Linked DNA regions of Homo sapiens. The protein of the gene in region 1 interacts with the protein of each later gene in a pairwise test. Each region holds a gene or a part of one and is shown on either strand. Other genes may lie near its edges.

Evidence for each region. The genes of interacting proteins can lie anywhere in the genome.
Region 2: the proteins of ACOT7 (region 1) and DCTD interact in binary tests that used the Homo sapiens proteins (3 or more experiments, as listed by UniProt).

What each region holds. Positions count from the first base shown.
Region 1 is NC_000001.11:6,268,091-6,271,839, forward strand, and holds part of ACOT7 (cytosolic acyl coenzyme A thioester hydrolase), read right to left. Parts: intron 1-3,749. UniProt on the Homo sapiens protein: Catalyzes the hydrolysis of acyl-CoAs into free fatty acids and coenzyme A (CoASH), regulating their respective intracellular levels.
Region 2 is NC_000004.12:182,896,787-182,900,535, forward strand, and holds part of DCTD (deoxycytidylate deaminase), read right to left. Parts: intron 1-3,749. UniProt on the Homo sapiens protein: Catalyzes the deamination of dCMP to dUMP, providing the nucleoside monophosphate substrate for the thymidylate synthase/TYMS.

The DNA.
Region 1 (3,749 bases):
ACCAGTGGTGGCTAAGGGGTGGTGCTTCTTTTTGGTGAGATAAAAGGTTTTGAAATAGACTGTGGCGGGGGATGTCCACCTCTGTGAATAGAAGAAAACCTGCTGAATCGTATCCTGGAAGTGGGTGAACAGAACGGCATGTAATTACATCTCAGTAAAGCTGTTAAAAGAGAAAACCTCCACAGTTGAGAGCTCTCTGTGGTGGGGGAGTAGTCAGGGCTGTCAACGCATAAGACTGGCCCTGAGCTAATAACTACACAGGAATTCTTTCTTCTCTTTACTTTTGCGTATATTTGACCTTTTCTATAATTAAAAAGCTAGAAAAGCAAAAAACTAACTAGACCTAGATCTAGGAAAACCAGCCCCTCCTTTCTTCCCTAGGCACCAATGATCTCCAGGCCCCAAAGAGACGGGGACTTGGCTTTACAAGCGGTGGGCTGCGGGCAGAGCTGAGGGAGCCGTCTGGGCTGTGCACAGGCGCGATTTTCCCCACTCCCCGCCAAGAGGCGCTAAGAGCTAACTCAGGACCATGCTCCTTCTGGTCCAGTTCATAGGTGTGTGATGGGCCCCAGGCCCCACGCACGCGGCACGGCCCGAACGGCAGGGAGATCTCCGCCCAAGAGCGAGAAAACCTCCAGGGCTTCATACAGCCCGGTCCTCACCTCTGCCAGCCACACGCAGCAGTGGAGCGGAGCCCTCGAGTCCCCTAACGATCTGGCCTCCATGACCACCTGGGAGTGGAATAGGAGTAACTTCCTACAGCTCTCGGCATCTTTACCAGAGATGTGACCACAGCCCTCCAGCCGCCGAGGGCGTGGGAGGACCACCCAACTCTGGGTCTGCAGAAGGCACTGCAGACGAGAGCCCTCCCACCCCTTTGCCCCCACATGGGCTGTGCACGTGGGGCAGGGACTACAGCGATAAGGGGATATTCCCTGCGCAACCCATGCTTAGGGCGCGGCAGGCTGTGCACATCAGGGTCTTCCCAACAACCCCACCAAGCAGCACAGAAATGATTGTCCACTTTTACCAATGAGGAAGTGAAGCACAGACAGGCTGAGTAACTTGCCCAAAGTGACACAGCGGGTAAGGGGAGAGCCTCCATTTAAACCTGGGCATGGGGGCTGCCCTCCAGGTCGTCCTATGCCGAGGGACTTTTAGGGGTGGGACTCGTCCATGGGAAGTGAGGAAGGCGATGGACCTGCAGCGTGTCCACGATGAACCAGGGTCAGGGGCTTCCCTGCCTCCCCTCACCTCACCCCGGCCCTCGGCACAGCCTAGGAGCACTTGCTGAGCTTGGCCTCCCCCAGGCGGGGGCCCTGCCCTGCCCTCAGCCATATTATCCCAAACCACTACAGCTGCTCCCACCCCAGCGGCCACCAGGCCATCGAGCATTCCCAATGCCACAGGCCGAGGGCTGTGACTGCTTCTCTCGAGGTCAGTTAATACACAGCCTGAGGCGGGCACGAGCCCAGGTGCAGGTCATTCTCAGGGTCGGCTCCAGGCTGAGGGAGAATCTGGTGCCCAGCAACGGGCCCCAAGGCGGCTCTGATGTGGCCCTGCTCTTTAATATTTGCAGCAAACTCATCAGCCAGGCTCTGCCCTCAGACAAAGCAAATGCTGTCTGATGATGGATGGATGTGTGGGAGCCTGAGAGCCTGTGAGGGCCCCACTGCTCTTCCCGTCTCCCGGGATGGTAGTATCTGCTGGATGTTCCAGGCTCTGAGACAGAGTCCAGACCAGCCCAGGAGCCTCAACGTCACTGCGTGGAGTGCCCGCCCATAAGCGCTGCCCTCCCAAGGTGCGGGCGGCCTTCCTCCCTGAGTGCCCAGGGGCGCCCTTCCAGGGTGAAGGTTTATGAAGATGGCAGTCAAGGGCAGGGATGTCCCAGGTGCCTGAGGACCCAGGCTCACCACCCAGGGGGAGGTGGAACAAAGGGCCGCGGGGCGGTGTCTGTCCCATGGTAGGTTACGGGCTCACTGCTGGTGGGCAGCCAGCCTCCCCAGGTCATGGCTTTGCTAAATAGTTCTCCTACCCAAGTGACAAAGGGGCCACCCTGTCCCGCTGGGTGAGAAGCTGACAGAGCAAGACAGATGTCTCCAGCACAAGGCCCCACCCACGGCCCGGCTGCTGCCTCCTCGCAGCCATCTCCCTCCACCCAGCAAAGTAAATAAATGCATACGCTGTTGGCTGTTGCTGTTTTTAATGGAGGGTTGGGGGTGGGTGGAGGACGAAAGAACGCTCTGCGGGAAGACAGATGTCTCTCTCAAGTCCCCGAGGCTGCTGGTGGGGGAAGGACTGGAGCCTCTGGGGCACTGGCCAGTGGTGCCAGCTGCCGGGCACCCACCTGTGGCCTCAGGCAGGCTCCTCCGAGCCTCTGGGGCTCCCCAAGAATATGCCAGAGAGAAAGGATGAGGTGGCAAAGGGCAGCTCAGGGCACATGACCCCCATGTATCCCGGGCACCTGCCTGATGGAAGGGATGGGGCAGCATGGCCAGGAGCAGGACTCTGAGTCCCACGGGCCCAGCTGTGTGGCCCAGGGCCAGGTTTGTTCACCTGGAAACAGGAACTCAACAAAGTGACATGGCAAAGTGCTTCCTATGGTGCCGGTGCACGTGAGCTCCTACGTGTGTGTGCACATGTGTCTGCGGTCCCTGGTGCATGTGTGTGTGTCTGTGTGGTGGTCCTGCTGTCCTCAGAAATACCTGAGGCCAAGTGCAGCCTGGGAACTGCTCCAAGGACTGTCCTGCTGGTGTGTGGCTGCCCCAAAGGAGGGCCAGATGGCCCGGGGTCACCTTAACGCAGCGGGCCCTTTAGGATGTCACACCCACACATGGGGACGCAGGGGTGGGGAGGGTCCCAAGGTAGCAGGTTGACAGTACGCTCCCTCCCTGGTGCTCAGGGAGCACCGCCTGGCACTCAGCACCAAGCCCCTGGCTCCCCTGCAGCCTAGTGGCTGCCTGGGCCTGGGGTCTGCATCTTTTTCCTCCCTCCACTTAGTGCTTCCTGCCACTGCTGTCTTCTGGGCTCTCTTCCACTGGAGGGGAAGCCTGTGGCTTTCAGAGCCAAGTGCTGCAAACCAAATGTTTTCCACTTTGCATTTTCTGTGCTTGGAGAACACACATTTGGAACATGGTATGGAGGACGAGTGACTAAGTTCCACCCTCGGTAAAATCAATAGCTTGTCCTTTTTGTAATTAATGAATGGCGTAAAAAGGGTTTCCAGTGGTGATATAACAACTTCCTGTAAGCCTGAGGGACACAGACCTTCTTAATTAGGAAGCCACGTAGCATGCCCTCTCCCTGTTATAACAGGAGACAAGAGGGGTCTTGGGATAATCACAAAAGCAATGAAAACATCTCATTATTGAGGACACTCAGCACGGCCGGGCGAGGGGCCTTGTGCATGGAGAAGCCAGCAATGATGAGCTTAGCACCAGGACCACCAGCCTCACAAGCACCTGTGCCCCCAGGGTCTTGCTCCACCTGAGGACCTTGCCTTAGCGGAGCCTGTCCGCCATCCGCTGTGGCCTCTCCGCCATCCGCTGTGGCCTCTCCCAGCAGCTGCAGGCCTGGGTTAATTACCTCCTCCTCCACACCCACCCAGGACTGCACCAGCCTCCAGCAGAAAGCAGCCGGAAGTCTCAAATAATGAGATCATTGTGGAGAGTCATAAACACCCTCACCAGGGGCTCCCCTCACCCAGCAGCACCGGCTCAGACTCCGAAAGAACTGCCCCCAAGTGGGGC
Region 2 (3,749 bases), on another chromosome or scaffold:
GCCTAGGTTCTTTGTAACTCCCCCAGAGTCTAATGTGATGCCATGAACATAATGGGTGTTAAATATTTATCGAATGAATAAAGGAGGAAATGCAGATTCCAATTATTGATGGTGACGTTCGGAAGTACTGGAAGTCCTCTTAAATTCAAATATCAGAAATATGCTCTCCCATCTAATAAATACTTTTGGATGGTGCTGGTATTAATATTCAGAACTGCAGAGCCTCTGCATCTGTTATGAAACACTATGATAGCGTCCTCTAAGAACTGTCACGCTCACTGCCATGAGCTTCCTCTACTTCATCCCAGGCAGTTTGGGGCAAAATTTAACAGTATAGGTCTGGATTCATTAGTGAAAATTACCATATGAAACAGATTCTCTTGGGCAGCATCTGACATCCCTGTGTACAGAGGGCGATTTATAGAAATAATGCACAGCATTATAAACAGACTTCCTTTCTTTTAACCAAAAAATCACAAGATGAAGAATGTAAAGCTTCTTGTTAAAAAATATATATATATGAATATTAATATTAAAAATAAATATTAAATATATATCATATCTGAATATTAATACCAGCACCATCAAAAAGTATTTATTAGATGGGAGAGCATATTTCTGATATTTGAATTTAAGAGGACTTTCAGTACTTCCCAACATCACCATGAATAACTGGAATCTGCATTTCCTCCTTTATTCATTTGATAAATATTTAGCACCCATATATATATATATATATTTACATATATATAAAGCTACTGGGCAATATGAACAGTAGTGTGTCGGGTACACATGAGACTCTAAAAGGAACAATCCAAAATCCCACATACGCAAAAGTGGACACTGACAAGCAGGAAACTCAAGTGTTCGGTGGAGGGTGTAAGATCAGCCCCACCCTGGTCTCTCTTGCTGGTTCCCGTACCCTTCCCCAGACCCCCTCAGCCCTGTCTTATGATCACAGGCTTGCCCGACCCGCACCTGCGGGGCTGAGGAGAGAAGCCCCAACCCAGAGGAGCACCTGAGGCCGCAACCCAGCCCTGCCCCCTTCGTAACTCCCAGCTGCCGCCTGTTGTGGTCCTGAAATCCAGCTTCACCTTTGTGGCTGACACTCGTCTATCAGCTCCAGGATCTCCATAGCCCTGAAACTCTGAACCTTGCTGTCCCCCAGGCCGCCCTGTACCTCCTTTTGGGCCTGTCCTGAGGAGACAGGACTCAGCCAGGCCTCAGCCCCCAGACTGTCCTCAGAGAGGAAACTAGGGAAACTAACTTGATGACTTCCTCCAATTTGTTTAAAGCAGGTGGGTCAGAGTAAAGTTTGGGGATTCATTTACTTGTGTCGACTGGCCATCGACACTGATCAAATAACAGGCACCTGCCAAATCCACTTCAGGCCACAAAGAGCACTCGATGACTGCCTGGCCTGTGACGAGCTCATGCCTGCCCTGGCTGGCCAGACCACCACAGGCCAAGCATCCTCCCCTCTGTACTCTCCACCTCTGCCAGCGAGTGTGGACAAAGAGCTTTGCAACAAGGGCAGCACGAGGGCTCAAGGTCCAATTTGCTGCTTGGAAGCCGGATGACCTTCGACAGGGTGGCTGAGCGCTCTTGTAATTTGCAGGAGTGACAGTGGATCTGAGAAAGTGCATTTCCAGCTAACTAAATAAAAGCAATTTAAAAAATACCAAGTACATCCGATGTCTTTGCTTTTTTCCTAAGGTTTCCAGTTTCATTCCTCAATCCTCCAGAACAGGTGACTTTCTCTAAAACAAGCTTTCACTATCAAAACACGGCCTCCTCTCCCCAGGCAAACACAAGGCCGTGCTCCCAGCCCCTTCCTCCCTCCATCTCTGAGGGCTCCCGCTTCTCTCTGCTCGTTTTTCTTCTCCTGTAAGCATGCATACTTAGTCCTTAGTCTAGAGAGGTCATCTTGTCAGCCTTTTAGGATTCTTTTTTTCCTCCTTTCAAGATGAAATCATCCTATCTACAATTGTTACTATAATTTATTTTTAAAATAATTGTCTTCTGACTTTGTAAGGCATACATAATCCCCAGTTTTCTCTAAAATAATGTTTTTCAAACTGCAGGTCATGAAATCAGTTCAATGAGTTACACCAGCTTTTTCTTCTGTTTTAATGAAATAGGTAAGAAGGGAAGGATAGAGGTCAGAATGGATCCCGCATACAAGGTTAAATACTATTCCTAAAAATTATGTTTCAGGTGTCAACTGTGTTTGCTGGGTCACCATATATCTGCCAATTTCCGTGGTGTAGACATTTTTTCACACAGCCAATCTCCCACTCCCAACATGACGTGTACTTGGGAAGCAATGCGCACAGTTGGCTCTGATGACCTGATGAGAGCCAGCTCCACAGGCCACAGGAGGGTCTCGTCATCATGAAAACCCAAGGTCTCTTCTGGCCTGGAACCTTTTGATTCACCTGCTCTCTTTGGACTCCTCTCTATTCTAAAACCTCTCAGGACCACCATACACTTGTGTTCTCTTTCTGCTTTACTTTTCTGTAGGTCCTTTTATTTTTCCTGCCTTTGTGGGCACTTCCCAAGGTAAAATATTGGTCTTTGATTTTTCTCCCATAGTCACTGCCCTTTTTTTTCTTTTTCTTTTTTTTTTAGATGGAGTTTTGCTCTTGTTGTCCAGGCTGGAGTGCAATGACGTGATCTCGGCTCACTGCAACCTCTGCCTACCAGTTTCAAGCGATGATTCTCCTGCCTCAGCCTCCCGAGTAGCTGGGATTACAGGCACCCGTCACCATGCCCAGCTAATTCTTGTATTTTTAGTAGAAACAGGGTTTCGCTATGTTGGCCAGGCTGGTCTGGAACTCCTGACCTCAGGTGATCCACCTGCCTCGGCCTCCAAAAGTGCTGGGATTACAGGCATGAGCCACCGCGCCCGGCCAGTCACTGACCTTAAGAATCCATCTGTTCATAGATTCTCAGATGCCAGATCCATCTGTAAAACCTGAAATCTGGTGTCTAGCCATAACTGCCCATCTTCTCCCCAGGCCTTTTCTTTTGGGTGGTCTGGGGCTTCCATGTACCTTTCCTCTATGGGTTAAATATCTCTTATCCAAAATGCTTAGGAGCAGAATTGTTTCAGATTTCAGATTTTAAAATGTTTGCATTATACTTACCAGGTGAGCATCCCAAATCCAAACATTTGAAATCCAGAGTGCTCCATGAGCATTTCCTTCAAGTGTCATGCTGGTGTGCAAAAGGTTTCAGATTTTGGGCCAGGTGCAGTAGTTCATGCCTGTAATCCCAGCACTTTGGGAGGCCAAGTGGGGGAGATCGTTTGAGCTCAAGAGTTCAAGAACAGCTTAGGCAACATAGTGACAGCTCATCTCTACTGAAAATAAAAAAACTTAGCCAGGTATGGTGGCGTGCACCTGTAGTCCTAGCTACTTGGGAGGCTGAGGTGGGAGGACTGCTTGAGCCCAGGAGGTCAAGGCTGCAGTGAGCTGTGTTTGCACCACTGTACTCCAGTCTGGGCAACAGAGCAAGACCCCATCTCAGAAAAAAAAAAAAGTTTCAGATTTTGATTTTTGGATTTGGCATGCTCAACCTGTACAATAAACATTCCACAGATATTTGACAGCAATAAATGAAGGAATAAATTTACCTTTCCCTAGAGTGCACATTTTTGTTGTGTTGCCTGGATGAACTGCAGCAAGAGCTACAACTAACCAAAACTAACCAAGAAGTAATTGTTAGTTTTTATATTCGTAGTAGGA